4 linked regions of the Homo sapiens genome follow. The protein of the gene in region 1 interacts with the protein of each later gene in a pairwise test. Each region holds a gene or a part of one and is shown in the gene's direction. Other genes may lie near its edges. The genes, in order: DEF6, SLU7, KIAA1328 and GOLGA6A.

What was found.
Region 2: the proteins of DEF6 (region 1) and SLU7 interact in binary tests that used the Homo sapiens proteins (3 or more experiments, as listed by UniProt).
Region 3: the proteins of DEF6 (region 1) and KIAA1328 interact in binary tests that used the Homo sapiens proteins (3 or more experiments, as listed by UniProt).
Region 4: the proteins of DEF6 (region 1) and GOLGA6A interact in binary tests that used the Homo sapiens proteins (3 or more experiments, as listed by UniProt).

What each region holds. Positions count from the first base shown.
Region 1 is NC_000006.12:35,307,637-35,316,031, forward strand, and holds part of DEF6 (differentially expressed in FDCP 6 homolog), read left to right. Parts: intron 1-2,033; coding exon 2,034-2,174; intron 2,175-2,822; coding exon 2,823-3,008; intron 3,009-4,577; coding exon of another isoform or gene 4,578-4,665; coding exon 4,666-4,902; intron 4,903-4,989; coding exon 4,990-5,136; intron 5,137-8,395.
Region 2 is NC_000005.10:160,408,647-160,417,041, reverse strand, and holds part of SLU7 (pre-mRNA-splicing factor SLU7), read left to right. Parts: intron 1-1,731; coding exon of another isoform or gene 1,732-1,747; coding exon 1,748-1,917; intron 1,918-2,569; coding exon 2,570-2,723; intron 2,724-3,062; coding exon 3,063-3,143; intron 3,144-3,421; coding exon 3,422-3,586; intron 3,587-4,522; coding exon 4,523-4,591; intron 4,592-8,344; coding exon 8,345-8,392; intron 8,393-8,395. UniProt on the Homo sapiens protein: Required for pre-mRNA splicing as component of the spliceosome. Participates in the second catalytic step of pre-mRNA splicing, when the free hydroxyl group of exon I attacks the 3'-splice site to generate spliced mRNA and the excised lariat intron.
Region 3 is NC_000018.10:36,825,095-36,833,521, forward strand, and holds the start of KIAA1328 (protein hinderin), read left to right. Parts: upstream 1-4,032; 5' UTR 4,033-4,044; coding exon 4,045-4,102; exon of another isoform or gene 4,103-6,058; intron 6,059-6,072; exon of another isoform or gene 6,073-8,294; intron 8,295-8,427. Other genes in the region: TPGS2 (tubulin polyglutamylase complex subunit 2), read right to left, coding at 3,589-3,673. UniProt on the Homo sapiens protein: Competes with SMC1 for binding to SMC3. May affect the availability of SMC3 to engage in the formation of multimeric protein complexes.
Region 4 is NC_000015.10:74,068,886-74,073,474, reverse strand, and holds the end of GOLGA6A (golgin subfamily A member 6A), read left to right. Parts: intron 1-657; coding exon 658-733; intron 734-1,165; coding exon 1,166-1,257; intron 1,258-1,818; coding exon 1,819-1,921; intron 1,922-2,004; coding exon 2,005-2,108; intron 2,109-2,197; coding exon 2,198-2,351; intron 2,352-2,437; coding exon 2,438-2,565; 3' UTR 2,566-3,618; downstream 3,619-4,589.

The sequences.
Region 1 (8,395 bases):
AACCAAACTCAAATGGCTTAAGGGAGAGGGGATTTATTGGCTCACATAACCAAAAACTCCAGGGATAACTGCCCAGAGGGAAATGAGGGAAAAAAAGGAAATACTCCCTTCCTGGGATCTCCCACTTCCCAGTTTGCCAAGGAAAACTGAGCCCCAGGAGGACACTGAGGCAAAGTCTCAATACTTTCTCCCCCTCCTCTCTGAAAAGAGAATAAAATGAAGGCTTGGCACACACACCATCTCCGAGACAGTGCTAGCTCCTGCCTCCTAGGAACTGATTCCAAGGTGAACTGCTGGTGGTGGAAGAAGCCCTTCAATATAGCATGTATTGATTGCACTTGATGTACAAAAGAGGACATAGATGCTGAGGGACATAAAGATGAACAGAGACCTTGTCTCCAGAGTTCACAATCCAACGGAGGAGGGAGACTTGACATCAGTATTCTAGTAGGAAGGCAACCTGTGAACCAGGCACATTTAGTTTCAACCTCAGCTCTGCCATTTACTCTTAAAATTTCCAAACCTCTGTGTCTTCACCTGAAAAACAGGCTTAATAATATTTGCGTATATAGGTGATTGTGAAGACTAGAAATGGGGTATAAAAAGCGCTTTGACTGGGTGTAGTGGCTCATGCCTGAAATCCCAGCACTTTGGAAGGTCCAGATGTGAGGATCACTTGAGGCCAGCAGTTCAAGGCCAGCCTGGGCAACATATGCAGACCTCTGTCTCTACCGAAAAAAAAAAAAAAAGTTTTGGCCGGGCATGGTGCCTCAGGCCTGTAATCCCAGCACTTTGGGAGGCCGAGGTGGGCGGATCGCCTGAGGACAGGAGTTCGAGGCCAGCCTGGCCAACATGGTGAAACCCTGTCTCTACTAAAAATACAAAAATTAGCTGAATGTGATGGTGGGTGCCTGTAATCCCAGCTACTTAGGATGCTGAGGCAGGGGAATCACTTGAACCCAGGAGGTGGAGGTTGTAGTGAGCTGAGATCATGCCACTGCACTCCAACCTGGGTGACAGAGTAAGACTCCGTCTCAAAATAAAATAAAATAAAATAAAATAAAATAAAATAAAATAAAATAAAATAAAATAAATAAAATAATAAAATAAAATAAAATAAAATAAAAAACAGTTTTAATTAAATAAACCACCTCCTACAGTGACCGGCATATGGTAAGTGTGCAATAGTAACTAGTGACTTTTTAATCATTTACACTGCTTGTGACAAATGCTATAATAGAATTACCCCAAGGAGATTTTATTTTCACCAGATTTCAGATTTCAACCCCTTTATTCTAATATCATGGATTTGTTCAACAAACCCACATTTCCCCTGCACACCATTATGACCACTATCCCTTCTAAGCCTTGCCCTCTCCATGTCATGGACCATTTTTCATGACCCTTCTTTGAGCCCTCTCCTCTCCCAGAGCAGACACGCTTAGGTGATAGGCACACTGCAGCCAGGACACTGAGTCTTTGATGGAAACCATGATAAATTGGCAGCTTCTGCCCTGGGGTGGCAGACTAAGTCCCTGCAAACCCTGCAAACTGTCTAGCATTGTGGGAAGCACTTGGGCTTTGGAATCTGATGGAGATGGATTTGAACTCCAAGCTCTTGTTCAGTGTGGGTCTTTTGGCAAGTTACTGAATCCCTTGAGCCTCAGTCTCCCTGTCTGTAGAAAGAGGACACCAATACCTAATGAAGTGGCTAAGAGTATAACTGCATGGGTTTGAATTCCAGTTCTGCCAGCTGTGACCTTGGGTGAGAAATATCTCAGGGCTGCAGGAGTTTTCATTTGTAAAATGGGTATATGAGTAGTTGTTATGGTGGTTAAGCAAATGATATGTAAAGTACTTTAGCTCAGTGCTTGGCACATAGTATATAAGTTTTAGTTATTACTGAACTGAACAGTGTGTGTAGAGAACTCAGCCAGGATGGGGTGAGGACAAGCAGAGAGGTGGGGAGCAGTCCTCTGGCCCAGTTTTGGTTGGGGTGCAGAAAGACACACTGCCACTCTACTCTATCCCAGGTGCTGTCCCACAACCTGTACACGGTCCTGCACATCCCCCATGACCCCGTGGCCCTGGAGGAACACTTCCGAGATGATGATGACGGCCCTGTGTCCAGCCAGGGATACATGCCCTACCTCAACAAGTACATCCTGGACAAGGTGGGGCCCAGCTTGTAGGGAGCATCTGTAACCTCTCCCCACTTTTCCAGCCTGGCCAGCAGCCTAATACCTTGCCACTCCAACTCTTCGCCCCTGCCATAAACTCCTACTTCTGCCTGCTCTGTCCGTGACTGCTGTCCCATCACGTCCCTCACATCCCAGCCACCTGCCCCCTTCCTGTCCCCCTCAATTCACCTTCAATGTCCCTCATCTCTAATGAGGTGGGCCCCACCCTACCCATAACCTTCCACCGAATCCCTGCCCGGCCCTCCTCCAGCTTCCAGGGTTCTCCACCCTTCCCAGACTGTCCCCCTGAACTCCCCCTCCAACTCCTCCAATCTGTCACTGTGTTTCCAGGTTCTTGGCTCTTAGCTTCCTGCTGGGTTTCTCCTTCTTTGTCCTCTGGGCTGAAAGACTAGAGTTAATCTGTTGTCAGGGGGCCTGGGTGGGTGTGGGTGTGTTGTGGAGGGTGGAGTGGTTGGAACCAGCTAGTTACCTGGTAATCAGCTCAGGGATCCCTTGAGTTAGGGCCCTGGACTTGGCCAGGTGGGGAGCAGGGGCATAGATGAACCCAAGAAACCCAGCTGGAGCCTAGTGTCGTGGTAGAGCTGAGATATGCAGTCAGCTGATTTGCAGCCCTGGTGGCAGGTGGAGGAGGGGGCTTTTGTTAAAGAGCACTTTGATGAGCTGTGCTGGACGCTGACGGCCAAGAAGAACTATCGGGCAGATAGCAACGGGAACAGTATGCTCTCCAATCAGGATGCCTTCCGCCTCTGGTGCCTCTTCAACTTCCTGTCTGAGGACAAGTACCCTCTGATCATGGTTCCTGATGAGGTGAGGGTGATGGCAGCCCCAGGGACTGAATCACTTGGGACCAGACCTAAGCAAAACCATGAATGAGACCAAACCACCTTTGGTGCCTTCCCATATCCCCTTTCTTTCTTTACCATCTTCCCATGCTGGTATCTGTCCTCACCCAGCTGTCTCCAGATGCCTAGAACTGCCTGTGTCAGAGTAATTTTGCCTTCTTCCAGGAAAACTGAAATTACACTTTCATGAGGGTTCTGCTGGTCCTCACTGTAGGAAAATGATCTGCAAATTCTGTTTACACAGAGGTCTAAATGCCAGATACATTACTGAGCATTACTGGCAATCTAGGAAGGGTGCTTTTTTTTCCTTTACCTTTTGCCACTTCTTCCAGGACAGGAAGGATGCTTTACAAGGCAAGGGGAGACCTTTCTGAGACAGGAGGTTACTCTGGTTCCAGATTTTCCCTTTCTGCCTTTCTTCTGGAAAGCCAGGACAAACTCAGCTAAGAGACCCAGGGATAGGGCATCCTGGGAGAAAAGGCTGGGAATCTGGTCCCTATCTCCTTACTCCTGGGTGAAGCCAGGGAAGGCATTTTCCCATCCACCTGTACCCTCCCTCTTATCCTCACTTCCCTCCCCTGCCCATTTGGCCTTGTGACCCTTTAGTCCTCTTGGTGGCTGTGGAGATGCCAGGGTGACTTTAGGTCTTTAGAGTGGGGTTTACAGGAGAGGGGGCTTCTGTACTTACAAGAAGCCCTAGCATGTCAAGCTCCACTCACATTTGTCCTGGCTTCTGTTTGTGGGAAGGGTGATGAAGGGAACCACCCGAGCCCTGAACCAGTGCCCTCTACTAAACACCCAAACAAGACCCAGGATCCCCCAGAAAGTCCTAAACAGAGTGTCCCAAAAAGCTGCTGGGGCAGGTGAGGGACATGTGTCCATCTGCACATACACTTGGCTGGCTGCCCTTGTTAGACCCCTGCCAGTCAGGGCAAGGTGGCCTCGGAGGCCAGGAGGTTGTTTGCTTCTGCGATCAACATACAGAGTTAACAACTGCAGCAGGATGTACCCCAGCCACCACTTCCGGTTCCTCTGTAACAGGTTTCCTGTCCCTGCCCAGCTTACCTCTACTCCCCACTCCCCAACGCCTACCCCTACCCCAAATCCCCTTCCTCTCCCACAAGGGAAAGATCCCCAGGGTTGGGGATTGGGGCTTGGAATAAGGACCTGAATGGGATTCAGGAGATCAGAATCGGGTTCTGGCTGCCCCCAGTTTGCTGTGTGACTTAGAGCCAGTCACTTCCCCCTTTGGGCTTTTTTTTGGTCATCTGCAAAATGAGTGATTGGATGAGAGGGCCTTTGCACTCCCTTGACACTTTCTGTGATTTATTGCCTCTTTCTGGACCCCAGATCTCAGGTCCCCTTCACCTTGCCCTTAAGACAGGAAGGAGTGGGACTGGAGGTTGTGGACGGGGAGAGAAAACCTGAGTTGGGGTTGGGGCTCCAGGATCCTCTCCCAGGTCTTTTCCCTGGCTCCATAACATTCGGTCCTCTGGCCCCCTCAACGCTCTGTCCCCTGTTTCCCTCTGCCCAGGCTCTGGGAGCCAGATAGAGCACTCCCTGGTGTTGGTGCTGGCAACACCACCTGCTGCAGCTACCAGGCCTTCCTTCTCCTGCTCCAGGTGGAATACCTGCTGAAAAAGGTACTCAGCAGCATGAGCTTGGAGGTGAGCTTGGGTGAGCTGGAGGAGCTTCTGGCCCAGGAGGCCCAGGTGGCCCAGACCACCGGGGGGCTCAGCGTCTGGCAGTTCCTGGAGCTCTTCAATTCGGGCCGCTGCCTGCGGGGCGTGGGCCGGGACACCCTCAGCATGGCCATCCACGAGGTCTACCAGGAGCTCATCCAAGATGTCCTGAAGCAGGTCAGGCAAGCTGGGAACTAGGGGAAGCACACAAGGTGCAGGGCGAAGGGGGGCCTGGGAAGCCTCTGACGTAACTCCGGCTGGCAGGGCTACCTGTGGAAGCGAGGGCACCTGAGAAGGAACTGGGCCGAACGCTGGTTCCAGCTGCAGCCCAGCTGCCTCTGCTACTTTGGGAGTGAAGAGTGCAAAGAGAAAAGGGGCATTATCCCGCTGGATGCACACTGCTGCGTGGAGGTGAGGGGCAGGATGGGGGTGGAGGACATCTCAGGGCCCAGAGTGTCCTCAGGGGCATGAGAAGACAAGGGGGTCAGGAGAGGGGCAAATGGAGAAAAGCCACAGTGACACAAATTCCTGCTTAGATTAGTGTGACCCAAATATATCCGGATGCCTCAAGGCCATTCTCATCCACGTCAGCACTTAAAACTAAAACTGCAACTCAAGCACCAAAGTAATTGGTGAATAATATGGAATTTGCTCAAGATTTCAGAGGAAGTGGCTTATATCTATACTACACAGCAAATCTTTCTAAAAATCCCTTTTAAAGGTTTTTCTTCTTCACCCATATTCCATTCCCTTTAGCAACTCTGTACTTCCCTATTCTCCTTCCATACCCCTCTCCTCTGTCTTCCCCTTCTGTTTCCTCCCTTGTGTTCATCACTATTTTAGAGGCTTAAAACACAAGCGTCTTTACTATTTTAAATAATATGTATATATGTGTGTGTAACATGAAACTTCCCATTTTAACTATTTTAAGCGTACAATTCAGTGGCATTAAATACATTCATGAAATTAAAAAATTCTTTTGATATATAACAGATGTACATATTTTCAGGGTACATGTGATAATTTAATACATTCATATATTTTATAAAAATCAAATCATGTCATTAGGTATCCTTTACCTCAAATATTTCTTTATGCTAGAAACATTCAAATTATTCTCTTCTATTTTGAAATATACAATAGATTATTGTAAACTGTAGCCACCCTACTGATCTATTGAATCCTAGGTCTTATTTTTCCTGTCAAACTGTATGTTTATACCCATTCATCAACCTCTCTTTGTCCTCCCCCCACACTTCCTGGCCTCTGGTACCACTAATATACTCTCTATCTTCATGTGATCCACTTTTTTAGCTCCCACATGTAAGTGAGAACATGCGATAGTTGTTTTTCTGTGTTTGGCTTATTCACTTAACAAAATGACCTATGGTGCCATCTATGTTGTTGCAAATGACAAGATTTCATTCTTTTTATGGCTGAATAATATTATATATATCACATTTTCTTAATCTATTTATCCACTTCTGGGCACTTAGGTTGATTTCATATTTTGGCCATTATGAATATCTCTGCAGTAAACATGGGAAGGCAGATATCTCTTCAATATATTGGTTTACTTTCTTTTAGATATATACCCAGCAGTGGAACTTCTAGATCATATGATAGTTCTATTTTTAGTTTTTTGAGGAACCTTCATACAGTTTTCCATAGTAGCTGTACTAATTTATATTCCCACTAACAGTTTATCAGGGTTCCCCTTTCTCCACGTCTTCTCCAGCATCTTTTTACAGAAAAGATATTCTTGGCCAGGCGCAGTGGCTCATGCCTGTAATCCCAGCACTTTGGGAGGCCGAGGCTGGTGGATCACCTGAGGTTGGGAGTTTGAGACCAGCCTGGCCAACATGGTGAGACCCCATCTCTACTAAAAATACAAAAATCAGCCGGGCATGGTGGTGGGCGCCTGTAATCCCAGCTACTCAGGAGGCTGAGGCAGGAGAATCGCTTGAACCTGGAGATGGAGGTTGCAGTGAGTCAAGATTGCACCATTGCACTTCAGCCTGGGTGACAGGAGTGAAACTCTATCTCAAAAAAAAAAAAAAAAAAAAGATGTTCTCTATTTTTTTTGTAAAAAGCCATTTTAACTGGGATGAAATGATATCTCATTTAATTTTGATTTGCTTTTCTCTGATGATTAGTGACATTGAGCATTTTTTCATATCTCTGTTGACCATTTGTATGTCTTCTTTTGAGAAATATCTATTCAGATCTTTTGCCCATTTTTAAACTGGATTATTTGGTTTTTTGTTACAGAGTTGTTTGAGCTCCTTATATATTCTGGTTATTAATCCCTCGTCAGATTGATACTTTGCAAATATTTTCTCCTATTCTGTGGGTTGTCTCTTCACTTTGTTGATTGTTTCCATGGCTGTCCTGAAGCTTTTTAGCTTGACATAATCCCATTTTTCTATTTTTGGTTTGGTTGCCTATGCTTTTGAGGTCTTCCACAAAAAATCTCTTTGCCCAGACCAATGTCCTGGAATATTTCTCCAATGTTTTCTTCTAGTAGTTTCATAGTTTCAGGTCTTACATTTAAATGTTTAATCCATTTTTATTTGATTTTTTTATATGGTGAGAGATAGGGGTCTAGTTTCATTCATCTGCATGTGGTTATTTAGTTTTCCCAGAACCATTTATTGAAAGGACTGTTCTTTCCCCATTGTGTGTTCCTGGAGCCTTTGTCAAAAATGAGTTCTCTGTAAATGCATGGATTTATATCTAGGTTATCTATTCTGTTCCATTGGTCTTTGTGTCTCTTTTTATGCCAGTACTATGCTGATTTGGTTACTATAGCTTTGTACTACATTTTGTTTTTTTGTTTTATTTTAGAGACAGGATTTTTCTCTGGTGTCCAGGCTGGAGTGCAGTGGTATGATCATAGGTCACTGCAGCCTCAGTCTCCTTGGGCTCATGGGATCCTCCTGCTTCAGCCTCCTGAATAGCTGGGGCTATAGGTGTGTACCACCGTGGCCAGTTCGTAGTGTATTTTGAAGTCAGGAAATGTGATGCCTCCAGCTTCGTTCTTTTTACTCAGGCTTACTTTGGCTATTTGAGGTCTTTTGTAGTTCCGTATAAATTTTAGGATTTTTTTTCTATATCTATGAAGAATGCCTTTGCTATTTTGACAGAGATTGCACCAAATCTATAAATTGCTTTGGGTAATATTGTTATTTTAACAATATTAATTTTTCCAATACATAGCATGGGATATCTCTCCATTTTTTTGCATCCTCTTCAATTTATTTCATCAGTTTTATAGTTTTTCTTGTATAGATCTTTCACTTTGGTTACATCGATTCTTAGGTATTTTACATTCTTTGTAGCTGTTGGAAATGGGATTGCACTCAACTTCTTTTTCAGATTGTTTGCTGTTAGCGTATACAAATGCTACTGGGTTTTGTATGTTGAATTATCCTGCAACTTTACTGAATTCATTCATCAACTCTAACGGTTTTTTGTTGGAGTCCCTTTTTTTTTTTTTTTTTTTTTTGAGGAGGAGGAGGAGTCTTGCTTTTATCGCCCAGGCTGGAGTGCAATGGCACGATCTCAGCTCACTGCAACCTCCGCCTCCCGAGTTCAAGTGATTCTCCTGCCTCAGCCTCCCAAGTTAGCTGGGATTACAGGCACCTGCCACCACACCTGGCTAATTTTT
Region 2 (8,395 bases), on another chromosome or scaffold:
ACATGGCGGCAACAATAGAGAATGAGAGCCAAGCAAAACGGGTTTCCCTTTATCAAACCATGAGATCTCGTGAAACTTATTCATTACCAGGAGAACAGTATGGGAGAAACTGCCGCCATGATTCAGTGATCTCTCACCCGGTCTCTCCCACAACACTTGGGAATTACAGGAGTACAATTCAAGATGAGATTTGGCTGGGGACACAGAGCCAAACCATGTCAGACATGATATGATCAGATTTGTGTTTTGAAAAATTAACACTGCAATGTGGAGAATTGATTGGAGGGAATCAGAAGAGTCCAGTAAGTAGGAAAAAGTAATAACTTACACTAGGGTGGTAGCAGTAAGAATGGAAAGAAGTAGATGCATTTGAATGATACTCAAAAGGTGAAAATAACTGTTCTTAGTGATGAGATAGATGTAGGGATAAGCTGAAGCACTTAATGTAAAGGGACGGATGGTGTTGTCTTTCATTAAGATAGGGAAGAGTAGGAGATTAGATTTCAGAGGGAAGATCATGAGATTGAATTAAGACGTATTGAGTTTAAATGCCTCTGGCCTCTAAGTGGAGATGTCAAGTAAGCAATTGGATATATGTATCTGAAGCTCAGATAAAAAGTCTTGAATAGAAAAATACGTTGTTCCTTTATTATTTTTTATTTTATAGAAAAATAAGTTGGAGAGCCAGCAGTGTTGTATTGTGACCATTGAAGCCTTGGAAGTAAATGAGCTTATCCATTAGTGGGAGTTTAGAGTGGCTTAAAAGGTGCTGACTGAGCCTTGAGGAATCCAACATTAAATAACTGGGCAAAATTTGATGACAAGAGAGGTACAAGAAAAACCAAGAGGGCCAGGCACAGTGGCTCACGCCTGTAATCCCAGCACTTTGGGAGGCCAAGGTGGGCAGATGGCCTGGGGTCAGGAGTTTGAGAGCAGCCTGGCCAGTGTGGTGAAATCCTGTCACTACAAAAAATACGAAAAAATTAGCCGGGCATGGTGGCGGGCACCTGTAATCGAGCTACTCGGGAGACTGAGGCAGGAGAATCGCTTGAACCTGGGAGGCGGAGGTTGCAGTGAGCTGAGATCATGCCACTGCACTCCAGCCTGGGCAACAGAGCGAGACTCTGTCTCTAAAAAAAAAAGAAAAAGAAAAACCAAGAGAATGTAGTGTCAGGGAAGTCAAGACATAATATATAAAAAGGGAAGGAACAGAGCTGAAAAATGTCCATTGGATTTAGCACAATGGTCCTTGATGACTTAATGATGTAACTCTTTTCTTTAGAATGGTAGGGAATGGAGGGCTAAGTTAGAGTGAGTGAGGATGAAAATAGAAGGTGAGGAAATGGAGGCAGTGAATATAGATAACTCTTGAGATATTCATTCTTGAAGGGGTACAGAGATAGGACCCTCTTTTCTCTCATTAAGAGTTACTGTGTTAGAAAAGTTTGAGACATACACAGAAAGAGGGATTAAGGATGGATATGAGAAAAGAGTCCTGTGAAATTTTAAATACACGTGTGTGTCTCTCTCCATTTGTAAATTGGAGTTGAGAGAGAAACAGTGCTAACAGTATGTAGAGACCTTGAGGAGGGGGAAGAGACCCTTCCTTACACATAATATAGGAGAAAAAAAAACATATGAAACAGTATATATTATTAGGATGTATTTTTGGTAGTTTGAGTGAATTCATGAAGGCCTACTTTTTACTGTAAGTTTCACTTCTTTTCCTAGAGGAGGCCAGATAACCATGTCAGCCACAGTTGTAGATGCAGTTAATGCTGCACCCCTATCGGGGTCCAAAGAAATGAGTTTGGAAGAACCAAAGAAGATGACCAGAGAGGACTGGAGAAAGAAGAAGGAGCTAGAAGAACAGCGAAAATTGGGCAATGCTCCTGCAGAAGTTGATGAAGAAGGAAAGTAAGTACTTAATTTTTTGTATGATCCATTCATTCAGAATTCAAATTCATGTCTACTTAGTTTATTAATTTTTCATCCTTTGAGAGGAACCTCTCTTCATTTATGTCATTTTTGTTTTTTATTTTATCAAACTCATATGCATATGGTTTAATAATGAAATTATGTTGAAGGGCTTATAATGAATAGCAACAGTCCTTTTTTACCGTTCCCACCCCTGGCCTGCTCTACAGAAGTGACTGCTATGAAATCTTTCTATTTTGAGTTTTTCTGGTTGTTACCGTCACATCTCTAGATAATAATACCTACACAATTATTTTAATTAATTGACTATAGACATTATTTGAACCAAAACTTCTTGTGATAGAAGATTTAGATTACTAACACACATCTCTATTTTCCTTCCTCTCTTGTCCCCCTTCAGTTATATCACTATTCTTAGTTTCTTAGTTGGAAATATTTTCACTCTAAAATAAATTACTTCTTTATTTTTAATTATTCTTTATTATAGTATAGAGATAGCAACCTTGTTCTCTTCCCCCTACCACTGCAATATTTCTGTTCTTAGATTTTGTATAAGCTACCTTTGTAATTGTAATACTGATTATTTTCCAATTTTATCCTTAAATTTTTTTTTTTTTTACTTTAATTACAGAGACATCAACCCCCATATTCCTCAGTATATTTCTTCAGTGCCATGGTATATTGATCCTTCAAAAAGACCTACTTTAAAACACCAGAGACCACAACCAGAAAAACAAAAGCAGTTCAGCTCATCTGGAGAATGGTACAAGAGGGGTGTAAAAGAGGTATGTAGGCAACCTGTATACATCTTCATGGATATGGAGAGTTTAAGAACTTAATGTAAGAATTTTTAATGCAATACTATTTAAAGTAGAAACAGATAATAAAACCCTTTATCTGGTATTGAAATTCACAGTGCATTACTATTTTATCTTTGTGTTTCTTATATAAATTTTACACTCCTGAACTCTTTAAAGTTTCACATTTATAAATGTGTGGAGACTCTAACTTATTTTCCTTTTAACAAAGAAATCATTTCCCTAGACAAAATAGTAATGAGAGTCAAAGTTATTTCTAACTTACGTGGTTAAGACATTTTTGTTTTTCTTTATATATATTTATAGAATTCCATAATTACTAAGTACCGCAAAGGAGCATGTGAAAATTGTGGGGCCATGACACACAAAAAGAAAGACTGCTTTGAGGTAAGTTCACCTTTGAAAATTTTGAAAACCGTTGTCAGAGTCTTTCTTTTTTCTTTGTCAGAGAGCTAACTTCTCTTTTTCTGAAATCACCTATATTTAGGTACAAGTTAAATAAAAATTAGTTTCAGTGGAATTGGTTCAACACCAACAAAATTTTCTACTGTAAGACTAACTGTAAATTGAATAGATCGTAAAGTGCCCACTCTGTAAAAGTTGTATGAAGTTTTCCTTTGGGCCATAAAAACTTAGGAAAAGATTAAATCTTACTCTGTTTTTAGAGACCTAGGCGAGTTGGAGCCAAATTTACAGGTACTAATATAGCTCCAGATGAACATGTCCAGCCTCAACTGATGTTTGACTATGATGGGAAGAGGGATCGGTGGAATGGCTACAATCCAGAAGAACACATGAAAATTGTTGAAGAGTATGCCAAAGTTGATTTGGTGAGCAAAATTCCCTGCTTTCCTGGGGTTTTTAAAGAATCGTCCTTTTGCTGTATCTCTAGCAGCTCTACTTTTCAAATCTTGAAGCACTTTAAAAATGGTAGCATTTTTATAATAGTAGTACTACTGTATAGGCTACCTTTATAATTGTAATATTGAGTAAAGGAAATAGTGTGCTAGCCATACTTGCCAGCAGTTTCTTCTTATTTGATTCTTATATTGGTCCTTTACTCCCTGACTTAGGTAGCAAAAGATATTGGAAGCATGAAGACAGATTAGTGTCCAAAGCTTTTGGTTTTGTGAGGTTAGAAATGTATGGCCCCAAGCTATAGCTTGCCCATGAACCTATTTTATAGTTGCCTCCCATAGCATTTGGGAGTAGTAGAAAGGGAATGGATAATTTGTTTCAGAAAATTTTATTTTATTTTAACCCAACTTCAGTTTTTACTGTTATGATTTGACCTATTCACCCTTATTCCTTTGAAGTCATAGTCACACTGCCTTTTTTTTTTAATTAGAGGTATCATTTTAAAATTATAAGATTTCATATAAAAATCTGGATTTCATCTTTTCTTGAATATTGTAATATATGGTAACCCCACGCCTGCCTGGTAAGAGTCAGTCATCTAGAGTTCTGTGGCAACTGCTTGTTTTTGTCAGGGCTTGCTCCCTGCAATTTACTACTGATGCCATTTGGCTCAGTTTACATTAATGCCTGGTTCAAACACTGTGTAACTCCTGCTCTTTATAGAGTAATAGGTCTAGGGCTACAAGGAATCCCAAAGAGATAGGTTTGTTCAGTGACCTTTTCTGAAATAAATTAATTTAAAGTTATTCATTTTAAATATATAAAAATTTAGGTGGTGACTTGAATGTTGTAAGTAAAATTTAAATGTTTACTTTTTCTTTCTTTCTTTCTTTTTTTTTTTTTTAAAGGCAAAACGAACATTGAAAGCCCAGAAACTCCAAGAGGAATTAGCCTCAGGAAAATTAGTGGAACAGGCTGTAAGTAATGAAAATGATCAATAAAAAGGTTTTATTTCTTTTAAACAAAGAAATGAAAATTGAAACAAGAATTCATTTTATAGCTCTTCAGTTAGGAAGAGAGAAATGCTATTGGGGGAAAAATAAAACTGATACTTTGTATACAGTTCATAGTAATATAAATTGATGCAGTCAGTTTGGGAACAATATTGCCACTATTTATATTTAGACACACACAAACATTTACTTTTTCAAGTTAAATTATTAAAGCTATCCATCCTAAAGAATTTTCTAGAGTTTAGAAAAATCATGATGCATAAAGATAGTACAGCATTTTTCACAATAGTAAAGAAATTGGAATAGCTTAAATGTCCAGGAACAGGGAATTGGTTAAGTGCATCTGCATGGTGTAATGCTGTGTAGTTCTTAAAATGGCATTTCTCAAGACTTCATTAACAACACTGGTTAACACTTGTATTTGAATAATACATGAAAAGATAGTATAATATTATCACACAGAAAAAAAGACCAGAACACTAGTTTTTATTTAATGTAGAATTTATGAATTTTTCTTTCTATTTCTTTAGTATTTTCTGCATTTCCCACAATGAATATGTATTAGTTATATAACTGGGCAAAACATTTTTTATATGAATGAAAGGTCTATTGCAGCCAGTTTTTTTTTCTTTTTTAAAAATCCTTGTCAATAGAGTAAATATATTATGCATATTAGAGTTGTCAAGTTTCTTTTTAACAAATCTAGGCACAAATAAATAGTAAACATTTATAGTTTTTTAGTTTAAATTTCTAAAAGGGACTCTAAACCATGTATAAGTAACAAAGCAAACAGAACTTGAAATAATTACCAAGTAAGCAGTTACCGAGTTACTAAGGTAACCTACCAGGCAAGTTAACATTGTAAGTTACCAGATAGGTGTTTAAAATCCATCTCTGGCCGAGCACAATGGCTCACACCTGTAATCCCAGCACTTTGGGAGGCCGAGGCAGGTGGATCATCTGAGGTCAGGAGTTCGAGACTAGCCTGGCTAACATGGTGAAACCTCATCTTTACTAAAAATACAAAAATTAGCTGGGTGTGGTGGCGAGCACCTGTAGTCCCAGCTACTCGGGAGAATCGCTTGAACCCAGGAGGCAGAGGTTGCAGTGAGCCGAGATCACGTCACTGTGCTCTAGCTTGGATGACAGAGCGAGACTCTATCTCAATCAATCAGTCAATCAGTCAATCAATAACAAAATCCATCTCTGCTCCATGAGACATACATGCTCTTAGAAAAGTGAATTTGCCGGCCGGGCGCGGTGGCTGACGCCTATAATCCGAGCACTTTGGGAGGCCAAGGCGGGTGGATCCCAAGGTCAGGAGATCGAGACCATCCTGGCTAACACGGTGAAACCCCGTCTCTACTAAAAAATACAAAAAATTAGCCAGTCGCGGTGGCGGGCGCCTGTAGTCCCAGCTACTCGGGAGGCTGAGGCAGGAGAATGGGTGAACCCAGGAGGCAGAGCTTGCAGTGAGCCAAGATCATGCCGCTGCACTCCAGCCTGGGCGACAGAGTGAGACTCCGTCTCAAAAAAAAAAAAAAGTGAATTTGCCTCTCTGAGCTGCAGTTTAGTATGTCTGAAATAGAAATGATAACACCTACCCCCAGGAAGCTTATATACATATCACATAGTAAACACTGGGTAATTAGTAGCTATTATTGTTGTGATTATTTTTATTTATTACTAACTTTGGGAAAAGAAAAAGGGCCTGTTTCTTTTGTTCTAATGTATTCTCTGTTGTTTGTTGTAAACGTAATGTAATTTATTTCCCCAGTAAGGATACTTAATGTATGTAAGGGGCTAATGATTTTTGCCCACTTGGATGCTTGGATTATTTTTTTTTTATATACTTTAAGTTTTAGGGTACATGTGCACAACGTGCAGGTTTGTTACGTATGTATACATGTGCCATGTTGGTGTGCTGCACCCATGAACTCGTCATTTAGCATTAGGTATATCTCCTAATGCTATCTCTCCCCGCTCCCAGGATGCTTGGATATTAAGATGAACCACATACAGTAGATTTAGAGACTTAGCTGTCACTATAGAAATGTATGTAAATGTCTTTGGTGAACTAGCAAATAGTGGGAACTCAAAAAAATTATTTTTTACAAAATATTTATATTTCTAATTTTGAAAGTAACACATATTAAGTGGAAAAAAATTAGAACATAATATAAAAAAGAAAATATCCCTGTGTTAATTGTGAACATTTTGAAGTAGGCCTTTCCAGGTCTCTCTTGTCCACATATACCTGTTCATGTGTGCTAGAATACAAAATGTTTCTTACATGAATCCATCTTTATATATTCATTTATTACCTTCTTTTTTAATTTAACAACATAGAGTACAGTGGGAACGTGTTTTCTGTCTATATTTATAGACCTATAGCATCATTTATTTTTGTATGAATTCACATGGCTCAAAAATTAAAACAATTTAAGAAGATGCACAGCGAAGTCTCTCCACCCCTGTTTCTATCCACCCTAACACTAAACTTCCCCTCGCCCCAACTCTTTTGTGTATGTGTGTGGCTCCTTTCAGACTGTCTTGAATAAATACAAATACAAATATATACCCTTATCCTATCTGTCTCTCCCCTCCCCTTTTTTTAATCAAAAAAGTTAGGAAACGATACATACTTTTCTGCCCCTTGGATAGAATCACTTTTAATGGCCGTTCAGTGTTCCATGGAGTGCAATACATTATATAACCAGTGATCTATTAATTTGATTTTTTCCCAGTGTTTTGAAAAAACATTGCACATATACAACACTGCACATCACATTCTTATACATCTTTATATAATTGACATGATACTAGGATAACCTTCTAGAAGTGTATTTCAGTGAGTTTGTATTTCTAAAATTTTTATGACATATCACTTAGCCATCATTCAGAAAAGCCATGCAGATTTATGCTTCCATCTATATAGTATATATACATACACGTGTTTCTGCATCTCCTCACTAATGCTATAATGTATTCTCTTTTTTTTTAAGTATTTTTAATCTTTGAAGCCTTTATGAAGGGACATGATGAAATACCACGTTAGTGTAGGCATTCTGTGGAGTTAGAAAGTATTCTGACCAATTGCTAGCGAAGAAAAGTGTATCCTTGTGACAAGGAGTTTGGCCTCTCCTTAAATTACAATACTGTGTCACTTGTAGATTTTTTTCATTGCCCAAACTTCACTTTGGCTGTGAAGACATGAACCCAGTAATATTTTCTTTTTGGACTTACTAGGAAACTAGTAACGTTTAATGAATACAGTATGTCTGAAGACTAACACATTTAGAAATTAATATTTATTGGGTACTTTGGACATCTTAATCTTTCTGTTACCATTTTGTGGTTATAATCTTAATTAAAATTCTCTTGAAATTTGCTGGCTTTATAGACAGTGTAATAAAATTATTTACAATGGCACTCTTGTATTCAGAATTTTTGCGCTCATTATAACTGAGAAGTGTGAGAGTTTGTTCAGTTAGAATTAAGTTTTATTATCTTAATACTTATTTATAAGTTACATATTATATATTATATAATAAATATTTATTATATATAATATAAATATAATATATAATAAAATATATTTTATTATATAAATATATTATTTATAATAAGATAATAATACTTTATTATCTTAATAATAAAGTTAATTGGATTAAGTGGAATGAGATTATGAATGATTTTTCTTCTTTCATGATGCAGAATTCTCCAAAACACCAGTGGGGAGAAGAGGAACCAAATTCTCAGATGGTA
Region 3 (8,427 bases), on another chromosome or scaffold:
AAACTATTTTTTCCCATTGAGAAGTCTTAACATATTTGTCAAAAATCAATGAATCAGGCCGGGCACGGTGGCTCACACCTGTAATCCCAGCACTTTGGGAGGCCGAGGCAGGTGGATCATGAGGTCAGGAGATCGAGACCATCCTGGCTAACATGGTGAAACCCTGTCTCTACTAAAAATACAAAAAATTAGCCAGGCGTGGTGGTGGGCGCCTGGAGTCCCAGCTGCCCGGGAGGATGAGGCAGGAGAATGGCTAGAACCCGGGAGGCGGAGCTTGCAGCGAGTGAAGAGCACACCACTGCACTCCAGCCTGGGCGACAGAGCGAGACTCCGTCTCCAAAAAAAAAAAAAAAAAAAAAATCAATGAATCATAAATATGATGTTTATTTTTGGACTCTCAATCTTATTTCATTGATCTACATTTCTAGTTTTATGCCACTACCACTCTGAAGACAACTGTGGCTTTAAATTTTTTAAATTGTATTAAAATACACATAACATAAAATCATCATTTTAGTCAATTTTAAGTGTACAGTTAAGTGGCATAAAGTACATTCACACTGTTGTACAACCATCACCAGAACTTTTCCATCATCTCAAATATAGTATAGGGAAATGTGAGTAAGAGGAACTTTTTTCCTGTTTTGGAAAGAAAAGTTTATCTTGGCTACTCTGGGTCTCTTGCATTTCTATATTATATTTTAGGATTAAATTAGCTTCCTGATTTCTACAAAAGAGACAGTTGAGATTTTGATGGGAACTGGAGATGTGAGATTTGTAGATCAATTTGGGGAGTAACAGATTTTAACAATATTAACTCTTCCAATCCATAAACATGGTATGTCTTCTCATTTATTTTGGTCTTCTTTAATTTCTTTCCACAGTCTTATGTAATTTTCAGTACATAAGTCATGGACATCTTGTGTTAATTTATTCCTATTTTATTCTTTTATTTTTTTTGAGATAGGGTCTCACTCTTGTTGCCCGGGCTGGAGTGCTGTGGTGTGATCACAGGTCACTGTAGCCTCGAACTCCTGGGCTCAAGCAATCCTCCTATCTCAGCCTCCTGAGTAGCTAGGACTAAGGCATGCACCACCACACATGGCTAATTTTAAAATATTTCATAAAGGCTATGTTGCCCAGGCTGGTCTGCAACTCCTGGTCTCAAGCAATCCTCTCACCTTGGCCTCCCAGTGTTGGGATTACAGGTGTGAGCCACTGTGCCAGCTACATTTTATTCTTTTCAATACTATTGTAAATTGAATTGTTCTTAGTTTTATTTTTGGATTGTTCATTGCTGGTGTATAGGCTGTGTGTGTGTGTGTGTGTGTGTGTGTGTGTGTGTGTGGATTCCTTAGGATTTTTTATATACAAGATCATGTCATCTGCAAACAGATAGCTTACCTTCTTCCTTTTCAATTGGATGTCTTTATTTCATTTTCTTGCCTAATTGCCCTAGCTAGAAACTCCAGTACAATGTTGAAGAGAAGTGATAAAAGTGGAATTCTTGCCATGCAGAAAAGAGTGAACATAGCAGGCCCGAGACAATAATCCTCAGAAAGGTCTGCCAATCGGGCTGCCAAAATCCTTTTGTTGTAATGAATCATAGCCATGAGTAGGACTATCTCCTGAGTCCTGTAATCCTTGCGTCAAATCATTGAATCTGGTGTGATCTTGGGGAACCCTAATACAATTTTTGTTCCTGATTTTAAGGGGAAAGCTGCCAGTCTTTCACCATTACATATGATGTTAGATGTGGGTTTTTCATAGATGTCCTTCATCAGGTTGAGGAAATTCTATCTCTATCCCATCCTATTTCTAGTTTGTTGAGTTTTTTTTAATCAAGAAAGGTTAGATTTTGTCAAATGCTTTTTTTATTAAGATGATTATGCAGTTTTTGTCTTATTCTATTAGTAAGTTGTATTATATTAATTGATTTTTTTTAAGTTTCTTTTTTTTTAGTGACAGGGTCTTGCTATGTTGTCCAGCTGGACTTGAACTGGGCTCTAATAACCCTCCCACCACAGCCTCCCCAGTAGCTGGAACTAAAGACATGGGCCACCATGCCCAGCTATTAATTGATTTTCATATGTTAAAACCACTCATTCCTAAATCACACTTGGTCTTGGACTTCTATTAAAAGAGACACAAATTTTAAAAATCAACCAAACAAATACATAATTTCAAGTAGTGAAAGTGCTATAAGAATAAAAGAAAAAGCAGGGTAAGGAAAGAGAGAGCAAGAAAGACGGCGGTTATTCGAACTATATTCAGGGAAGGTTTCTCTGAAATAATGACATTTGATCAGAGATCTGAATGACCTGAAGAAGCGAGACATTCAGAGAAAGATAATTCCAGGTGCAAGGACTAGCAAACTGCAAAAGCCCTGAAGCAGGAACCCGCTTAGTGTGTTTAAGGTACAGCTAGAAGGCCATGTGGGCAAGAGTGGAAACAAAGTCAGAAAGAGATGAGAGCAGATCTTACAGGGACTTGTGGGTCATGGTACAGACATTTGGATTTTATTATAATTGTGATGGGAAGGCACTGAAGCATGCTTTTCAGCCTTCTTAAAAGACCTTTCTCCTCCTTAGTTTTCTGGCTAACTCCTATATGTCTTTCAAAATCTAGCATCATCTCCTCTGTGACATGTTCTTTAACTTCCCTGGTAAGATCAGTCCCCTCCTCTGTGACATCTCTGAGTAACAGATTACTGACCTCTTTTCACACTCCTAGTGACCTCATTTGTTTATTTTTTTCACAGAACTGTGTCTTTTTCATATTTTTAACCTCACGTCTAACATAGTGGTGAGTACTAAAGAAACGTTTGATAGGCCAGGCGCGGTGGCTCACGCCTGTAATTCCAGCACTTTGGGAGGTCGAGGCGGGTGGATCACCTGAGGTCAGGAGTTCGAGACCAGCCTGGCCAACATGGTGGAACCCTGTCTCTACTAAAAATACAAAAAAATAGCTGGGCGAGGCAGGAGAATTGCTTGAACCCAGGAGGCGCAGGTTGCAGTGAGCCGAGATCGCGCCATTGCACTCCAGCCTGGGCAACAAGAGCAAAACTCTGTCTCAAAATACAAACAAGCAAGCAAACAAAGAAATGTTCGATAAAAGAAAAACTCTGAGTCATTCAGTGGTGCAAGGTTGGATTCCTTTCAGACCCGACGTAGTTGTCGCCCTGGGAGGTCGGGTGCATTACTTCCCCCAGAGAAAGGTCTTGGGTTTCGGGGATAATGCCCTGGCTGAGAATGCCTCCTAGGGGGAGATCCAACTTCCCAACCGTCAGGTGCTTGCTGTGTTCCCTTTGCACGTCTCTGCCCGTCCTTCCTGGGTGGGACCTTGGTTGGCGGTGAGTGGGGGAAACTTCAGGCTTCCCAGCTCTGCCTCCGAACACTCCTGGCAAACACTTTCAAGGCCTAATCACAAACCCAGGTCCCCCACTTTCCTCTGTAACAACGGAAGTCCCAGCAGCGATGTCCACTCCTGTTCTGGGGCCAGCGTCGCACCGCTCACCCCGCACCTCATCCCTCCGCTCCTCCTTCCTTCTCCTCCACACCCTCTCGGCACCGTGCCCCCTTTCCTCACCTAGGATGCGCGTGATGCCCAGGGTCAGCTTCTCCAGGTGCGGCTTGCTGCAGCCCAGCCCCGGGGACGATGCCTCCTCCTCCATGGCTCGCGACCGCGATTCGCGCGCGGCGGGAGCGGGTGGAGGGCCGGACCCCGCCTCAGCGCCGAGGCCAATTTCATGGCATGCCGGGAACGGTAGTTCTCGGCGCCTGAAAGCGCGGCGCAGTGATGATGGGGGCCCGGGGTTGGTCTGACAGCAGCAGCTCCGTGGGGCGCCGGTTCCCGCGGCCCCGCCCGGTGCCCCACACCGCACCTCCGGGACGTAGCTTCCCCTTCGCCCCCACCCTCTCGCCCCGCAGGGGCCGGCCGCGCAGGCGGGGGCGGGCCTCTGCGTGGTGCGGCCAATGGGGACCGAGCCTGCAGGCCGAGGCGTGGCGGCCCAGGCGCGACGCCCCGAGTGGCGGTTGTTTCAAGATGGCGGACGTGGCGGGCCCCTCCCGCCCCAGTGCCGCGGCGTTCTGGAGCCGGGACTGTATCCTTTGCCCGCCTGACAGGGGGCGCCGGCGCCCTCCACGGGACGGCGAGGGGCGAGCCGTCGCGTGGCAGTCCGAGAGCGGAGGAGAAGCTCCGAACTAACCCCGGGGATGGGGACGTGCTGCTCGGCCCCAGTCTAGGTGCTGGGCTCTCCCCTTGCTTGGGTGTTAGGTGGCCGAGAGACTGGTACTGTCTGCAGGTGTGGGGACACGGCTCAGATGCTTCCCAGCGCTCACTACCGGTGAGCTCGAGAAAGATAGCCTTGAGTCCAGGCTCAGTCCAGGGCTGAGATGGCCCTCCGAGGTCCCTCTGCCCACCCTGTCAGAGTGCCCCCAGGCTGACTTGAGTGTGCGGAGCTAGCTCGAAGTTGAGGGAGGAGTCGGTGTTGGCTGGACAGGGAGCCTTTTTGTTTTGATTTAGGATTGTCTTTAGTCTGCATTGCTAGGAGCAAGTCAGGACCTTTCGGACTTAAAAGGCCCTCCAGTGATGATGTATTTTAATACTGGGGTTTTAGGAGAGGTGTGGAGCTTGGTTACTGGGATGTGGTCTGGTGGTGCTGGTTACTGCGTAAGATGGGAATCATTGTGCCTGGAAGTATTGTTGACTTACTTGTGGAGTGCGGGTCACTGGCAGTCATTGAAGTTCTTGGATCGTTGTGAGGTGGAGAAGCAGTGGAACTTTTTAGTCCAGTGGTAGTATTACCAGTTCAGCAGCAGTGATGAGATGTTTGTGTGACAGGAGTGTTTCTTTCCTTGGAGTAGGTAGACTCTTCTCGCTTGAGCTTTGGTCCTGATAATTTACTTCACGTTCCTTAGAGGGGTTACTTGAAAGAGGGACGGCAATCTGTGTTACTGAGTGCTTGCAGAGGCAGCTCTTTTTGTGTTTGCTAGGATTGGTGATGGCATTAATTGAGGCGTTGCTGTTACCTTTGGCAGAATCACTGGGCATTCTTCTTAGCTCCCAGTGAAACTTACAAAACTGTGTTATCAACTCCTTTGTTGAGTTACTAGGATTAGTGTCATGTGTAGAGAGAGGGATATGTTTGTATTCTGTGCTGCTCGTGTTTAGTGTTTGCACTTACTAGACATAATTACCATTTGTCTCTGATAGGTTGGTGAAAAGCAAATGAAATCATGTACATACACTGTGGATGAAAGCATACTAGTGCAGTGTGCAAATTAAATATTTTTTCCTTTACCTTTCAGAAGAGAATATGTGCACTGTGGACAACTGGGCTGAATTAGGAAGTTAGGAAATTGGGATAAGTCTTTTCTCAAGAAACACTGCTTCTGCATTGACATAATTTTGTGATGGAGGAGATACTTGAAGGTTATTAGCTTATAGCATCCTATGGTACTGTTCAAATATAGAATCAATGGTTTGGGGGGGGGACAAGCTATTGCAATGGGACTGAATAAGTGTATTAATAGATATATGGACTGAACCTAAGCTCTTGGTCTTCGCACCCAGTACTTTCACTTACTCATGTAGTTATATCACCCCCTATTTTATGTAGAAGTCATATATACTCCGTTATCTCTTGTATTCTGACTCCCAACATTTAATGTAAAATATTCGTCCTCTCATAGATAGTGAGGAATTGAAATTGTACAGGGGAAAAATGGTGGCGATTATATCCTATAAGATCTAATTCAGATGTATGAAAGGAATTGCAAAGTTGCTAGTGTCACCTTTCCCCTCAGACTATTCCACGTAATGACCAGTTAACATCGAGCCTCAGATATTTTCATTTTAAATCTCCATAGAGAATGTCACTGTAAGCAATGTCAAATGTAAATTTGTTACTGAATATTTGCTGAAAAGCATAATGATAGTTATTAATCATTTGATTTAGTTACATGTCTTTGCATCTTGATTCCTTTGTCATATTGATTATTTCCCAGACCACCCTAGAGCCTTTATAGTAGAATTTTCAATAGAAAAAGACCAAAAAGTAAGTACCTATAATCTGGTATTCTTTTCACACTATTGAAAAAAGATTTTCAATACTTCACCTAAACATTTAGAGAAATGTGATGGAGAGATTTCTTAGTCCTTGATGTTTCCATCATGAGAGGACAGATCATCTGTGACTCAATGGCACCTTTTTTTTTTATTGTTGTTGTTGTGAGTTATACATCTCCTGCACAGTATGATTCAGCAGTGCTGTTTTGCACAAGGAACGTTTTAGTACCTCATCTGTAAACAATGAGTGTGTGGTGTTGTCATGTTATGGGTTAAATCTTCCAGCAAAATATGCTCCTTCAGTTTAAGTTGCCTTTGTCCTTCATTACAGTTCCTAGTAATGTCAGAATGAGTTAGTGTTTCAGCAGTACCTAAATTTGACTGCTTAAATGCACTCAAGTGTATTACCATTAGCAATATCATGGACTTGATATTAAAAAATATGAACTGCAAGTGACCTGGTCAAAACATTGCAGTATAATCTCTGCTGTTGAGTTTTCAAATGGAAACAAAGACTGTATGTTGTGGTAAAAATAATATATTAGCCCAGAAAGTCTCTGTGGTTGATAATAATTACATATACATGTATTGCTGGCAAAACTCAGCAGATTAGAGTAGAATGGGCAGTACTGAACTTATTTCCTTCAAATCCTGGAGGTCTGGGATAGAGGTGCATCTTCCTCTCTACCACTTCTGCCTGGGTTTCTAATTACAGTTAGCCCTCTGTATCTGCTGATTCATTCAAATGTGGATGGAAAATATTTGAGAAAAAAAAGAAATAGCACACAAAAAAATACAAATTAAACTGTACAATTTAACTACTATTTATATAGCATGTACATTGTTTTAGGTATTATAAATAATCTAGAAATGACCCACTAGTAGGCCCACTATACATTTGGTATATAATGTGTCTGTTTGACTTCCCCATAAAATATACATTTGTTGGGAAATTCTAGATTTGAAGGAGGTAAATATTTGGGTTCTTAATATAATGAGATGAAAATACATTACAAATTATTAGAAAGGATAGAGGCAATTTCAAATATTGTTATTAAAAATATTGAAGTAGTTTGTTTAGAGTTTTATATATTTGAAAATAAATTTGTCATGGATGTAGCTGAAAGTAAAAGGTTTTGTTGGCCGCTTGCGGTGGCTCACACCTGTAATCCCAGCATTTTGGGAGGCCAAAGCAGGTGGATCACAAGGTCAGGAGTTCAAAACCAGTCTGGCCAACATGATGAAACGGCCGTCTCTACTAAAACTACAAAAAAAATTAGCCAGGTGTGGCGGCGGGCACCTGTAATCCCAGCTACTCGGGAGGCTGAGGCAGAGAATTGCTTGACCTAGGAGGTGGAGGTTGCAGTGAGCTGAGATCAAACCGCTGCACTCCAGCCTGGGTGGCAGAGCGAGACTCTGTCTCAAAAAAAAAAAAAAAAAAAAGTTTTGTTTGCATATTTAGAATCACAGAAATATAACATATAAGGTTGTTGGACAACACCTCATAAAATTAAATCAATACCAATTTTATTCTTTCATAGATGGAGCCAGACATTCTTTTATGTTTGAGGGTACAACACTGAACAAAATAAAACAAAAATCATTACCCTCTTGGTGCCTACATTTTAGTGAGATGAGATCAGGTCATGAATAAGGAAAATATATGTTCAATGATTTTTTTTTTTTTTTTTGAGTCAGAGTCTCGGTCTGTTGCCCAGGCTGGAGTGCAGTGGTGCCATCTCAGCTCACTGCAAGCTCCGCCTTCTGGGTTCACACCATTCTCCTGCCTCAACCTCTGGAGTAGCTGGGACTACAGGCACCCGCCACCATGCCCGGCTAATTTTTTTTTTTTACATTTTTAGTAGAGACAGGGTTTCACCGTGTTAGCCAGGATGATCTCGATTTTCTGACCTCGTGATATGCCCACCTCGGCCTCCCAAAGTGCTGGGATTACAGACGTGAGCCACTGCACCTGGCCTATGTTCAATGATATTGGTGCTGTGGAGAAAAAATAAAGCAGGAAAGAGGCAGATAGTAGCGGGAGGTAGGTAGGTTGTGGGAAGAGAGAGTTTTGCAATTTCAAGTACCTATATGGTTAGGAAGTGAAAGCTTCAATCAGAAGGTGACATGACATGACATATGACATAAGTCCTAAAGTGAGCCATGAAGATATTTGAGGAAAGAGCTTCCTGGGTAGAAGAAATCATACCTGCAGAAGCTATAAGGTAGGAGCTTGCATAGCTTGTTAACAATTATAAGAAAGCCAGGAATGAGTGAGAGGAATAGTAGCAAGTGAGATCAGAGATGTAACAAGTTACAGGGATCAGATCTTGAGCATTGCAGGCTGTTGTTAATACT
Region 4 (4,589 bases), on another chromosome or scaffold:
CTTCAAAAGGAAGTTAGCATTTTCCTTGCAGAGGTGCTGAGGATTGAATGAGAGAATACCTGGAAAGCATTAGGCATGTAGCACACTTAGCAGATGGTGGTTGGCTCCCTCTGCTTTTCCACCAGTCTGTGGCCTACAGTTTAAATGGTGGGAAGAAGGACATGAGATTTGAGGCTGGGGAAGGAGGTATGGGGTTCTAGGCAAGGGAGGAAGCCTCTTAGGCCTGGAGCAAGGGACCAGGGTCCTGGGCAGGTGACAGAGCCCCACGGTGCCCTCGCTACCCTATTAATGGGCCCAGAATCTGGAAGCCAGCCGCCATGTGCCCTCATGCCCAGGGTCTTCCTGCAGGTGGAGCTGAAGAGCCAAGAGTCTCAGAGTCTGCAGCAGCAGCGAGACTAGTACCTGGGTCACCTGCAGCAGTACATGGCCACCTATCAGCAGCTGACCTCTGAGAAGGAGGCGCTGCACAGGCAGTTACTGCTGCAGACCCAGTTCGTGGACCAGCTGCAGCAGCAGGAAGCTTGGGGCAAAGCGGTGGCTGAGATGGCCGGACAAAAGTTGCAGGAGACCCAGGGGAGGGAGTTGCTGAGGACGGGGCCCCGAGGGGGATGACCTGGCAACCTCCGTGCCTTCTCACTCTGTTTCCCGTCCCCTTAGGAGCACCTAGAAGCTGCCAGCCACCAGAACCAACAGCTAGAGACCCAGCTAAGCCTCGTGGCTCTCCCTGGAGAAGGTACAGGAGACCACTCAGAGGAAGAGGAGAGAGCCCCAGGAGGAAGGGGGGACTGTTAGCAGCATAGGATTGAGGGGTTGGAAGAGACCTTTAGAACAGCTGGTCGTTATGCCAACCGGGTGTCCGCACTAAGTTCAGCATCAATATGGTGACCTCCTGGGAGCAGGGGGCCACCAGGTTGCCTAAGGATGAATGAACTGGACCAGATCAGAAAGGGAGCAGGTCAGGACTCCCGCACCGACCGGTAGTGGGACTGTGCCTGGGCAATATAGCAAGATCTTGGTTCTTAAAAGGAAAAATAAAGAACAGCAGCTCACTCCCCTCTGGGGAGAGGCTGGCTCAGGGTTACACAGTCAGGGTGGGGACAGAGGTGGGCCCACAGTACCTCCCTTGTTGGGTTGTCTGAGGACCCCTCTGGCCACCTCCCTACAGGAGATGGAGGACAACATCTGGACAGTGAGGAGGAGGAGGCGCCTCGGCCCACGCCAAACATCCCAGAGGACCTGGAGAGCCGGGAGGCCACGGTGAGCCTGACTTTCCCTGCCCCGCTTTGCCACCTTCCTCTGTGGTCCCTCCCAGACCCCCTTATGCTCTTGGTTTTCCCACCTTCTGATTGCTCTGGCCCCTCACCCCTTCCGGGAGCCAGTGGTCAGACACTTTGTCACCTGTGACCAACAGGTGCACTCTCTGAGGCCCCAAGGGAAGGGGTTGTTCTCCACCTCCCTGCCTCATTTGTTCTGTCTATGCCCCTACAAGAATACTCACCTCTTGCCTTCAAGTGGCATTTTTCACCTCTGCTGGAGCCAGTTCCCAGGAGGAGCAGGCACGGCTATGTGGGCAGCGGAAGGTGTGAAGGCTGTGCTGCCTGCACCTGGCTCATCTGTTGGCCTTCGCCTGGAAGGAGCCAGAGGCAGAGGCCCCAGCCCCAGGGAGTGGGGGTGAGTTTGTGTGTGGGGAGAGCTACCGGGCCCTGAAGGAGGCCATGGTGAAGCTGAAAGGGAGTGAGTCCTGGCATGGGCCAAGAAAAGTGGGGGCGGGGCAGAACAGGTCACTCCCGAGATGTGACCCCATTATTTTGGCTCCAGAGCAGCTTTATGGACCTCCCGAAGGAGAAGGCGGACGGGACGGAGCAGGTGGAGAGACGAGAGCTTGGATTCGTCCAGCCTTCTGGAGTGACAGACGGCATGAGTGAGCGGGAGGCCAGGGCACGGGCACGGGGAGCTGCAGGGCCGTCGGAGGGACCCTAGTGTCTGAGCTGTGTCCTCTCACAGGAGAGTCCTTCACCGTATATGAAAGCCAGGGGGCAGTGCCAAACACGCGGCACCAGGAGATGGAGGATGTCATCAGGCTGGCCCAGAAGGAGGAGGAGATGAAGGTAGGGCGTGCAACATCTCTGCGGGGTTGGGGGTGGGCATGGGCGCTGGTGCAGGCTCCAGGGTGGGAGCTGAGCACCCCTCCCTTCAGGTGAAGCTGCTGGAGCTGCAAGAGTTGGTGTTGCCCCTTGTGGGCAACCATGAGGGGCATGGCAAATTCCTCATCGCTGCCCAGAACCCTGCTGATGAGCCCACTCCAGGGGCCCCAGCCCCCCAGGAACTTGGGGCTGCCGGTGAGCAGGATGGTGAGTAGAGCTCTCAGGCGGGGTGGGCAGGCAGGGGCAGGGGAGGCTCGCACTGTGCTCAGACCCCCGCCTCCCTCTCTCCGAAGTTTTTTATGAAGTGAGCCTGGACAACAACGTGGAGCCTGCACCAGGAGCGGCCAGGGAGGGTTCTCCCCATGACAACCCCACTGTACAGCAGATCGTGCAGCTGTCTCCTGTCATGCAGGACACCTAGGAGCACCCAGGCTTGCCCAGCAAACCCTGCGTGCCATTCTTCTACCAGGCAGCCGAGAACAGGGAGATAAACATCATCATCTTCTAAGAGCTGGTCAAGAAATTTAAAACAACAACAACAACAAAAAGTTACGGGGTTCATCTCCTACACAATTCATTTACTCCATTTGAATGCTAGAGCCACTCACATTTATTTGTGTTTCTAATTTACCGTTTAAATTTATTTGTAAAAAGTTAAGGGAGAGTTGGTCTTTCCCTGATGTTCTTTCTGGCATCCTTTAGCATTTTTATTTTTAATTTGATAATTGTAGGTCATTAGTATGCATATCGAGTTTGCCCTTAGGTGGTGGGAATTCAAACACACAAAGACCCACTAATTTGCACAAAACTATTCTGGCTGGTTTGGAACAGGCTGCCATGCTTTTTTAATGTTATTGCAGCATGTATATTCATTCCAGAATTCAGATAAAATGTGCTTATGTTCTGCTATTACGTTTGATCGAATCCTAACCACAGTGAGCTCTTCATTAGCTCAATATGTGGTTTGCCCTCAATTGAGCACTGTTTATTACTTTGTAATATGCCACTGTGAGTACTGACATTTAGAGTTGTTTAAAGGCCAAGAACTGGAAACAGCCTTTTCCCTATTTTCTGTGTATTGGGGATGGGAGTAATAACATTTTGGGGAGCTTTTTAAATCTCACAGAAGAGGAAAGTGGCCTGCTCTGGCAGGTGTGTGCAGGATAGAGTGTGTTTCATTTGTTCTGGTGCCAAGAATGAGCGCTGTACTATGGTAGTTCCCTTAGGATTTGTATGTGCTCTGGGCTCATGAAGATATTGCATCATGAGCTGCAGCAGTTGTACCCTTTCTTGATGACCTAAAAAGGGATTATTTCTGAGGAATGAAAGGCTCCCATCATTGACTGTGGATGTGGAAAACCTTTTCTAGCTTAGAGCATTTATATCTACAATACATTTTAAAGTCAGAGTTCATGTTACCTGTTTTAATCACGAGTATATGTCCCAGTACACAAAAGGGCACTGGTTGGCATTCTTCTTAAGGTATTTAGTGAAGATCATAAGAAATCCTTTAAGAGTTTAAATGTCCCTGGAAGAGGCATACAGGCTCTAGTCAAGAATGAATTCGAGTGAAGGAAAGCTGTGTGACACCTGGCCTTCCTCTATGTTCATGGAGCTTCTTTGAGGCTAGAAGATTGATTTTATCATCTAGACCTCTCTGGCTAATACCTATTCTTCAGCCACATTAGTTACTCTGACATAGGAATTTACTTCTTTTCTTTGAATGGAAAACACTTTAAAAATAATAACAACCATTATTATAAACCAATATATGTGAGAGTACTTAGTTGAAACAAAAAGGAGTTTTAGTAGACAGTATTATACTACACATGAAAATCAAGGCGAAGTTTATGCAACTTAAAATGTTTACAAGCTGCAGTGCAATCTAATGTTTGTGAATGTCCAAGTATTATGAGAAAAAGTGTCTATACAATGACAGACTTATGTTTCCTCACAAAGTTCTTCACAAAGAGTGAAATATGTTTTTATACCTCTCAGTTTCAGTTAGAGGCATATTTTGTGCCATATTTATGTTAATGTGCCTATACGTGATGAGTGAATTATTTCAGTCATACATTGCCTAAATCATAACTTTAAGATGCTTGGGAAAGAATCAACAGCTAAAAGTTCATGAAGTTCTAATGTCTGTGTTCCAAAATACGTCACAGTATTAGGATGCAGGGAGAGATGTGTGTGCGCTCCCTGGGGTGGGCATTTCTAGTTACTAGACCATCTCCATTTTTAGCATTTGGCATCCTCATGATACTTTTATACATATGACATTAATAGGAGAGCAATAATACGATTTTACAGATGGAATAACAGATGTGCCTGCATTCAGTGAAAGAGTGCAAATATTAAGTCCTTGTGACTTCAACTGACTCTTCCAAATTGTATGAATTTATCAATGTATTAGATAAACTCAGTTCCAGAATTATAAAGAAA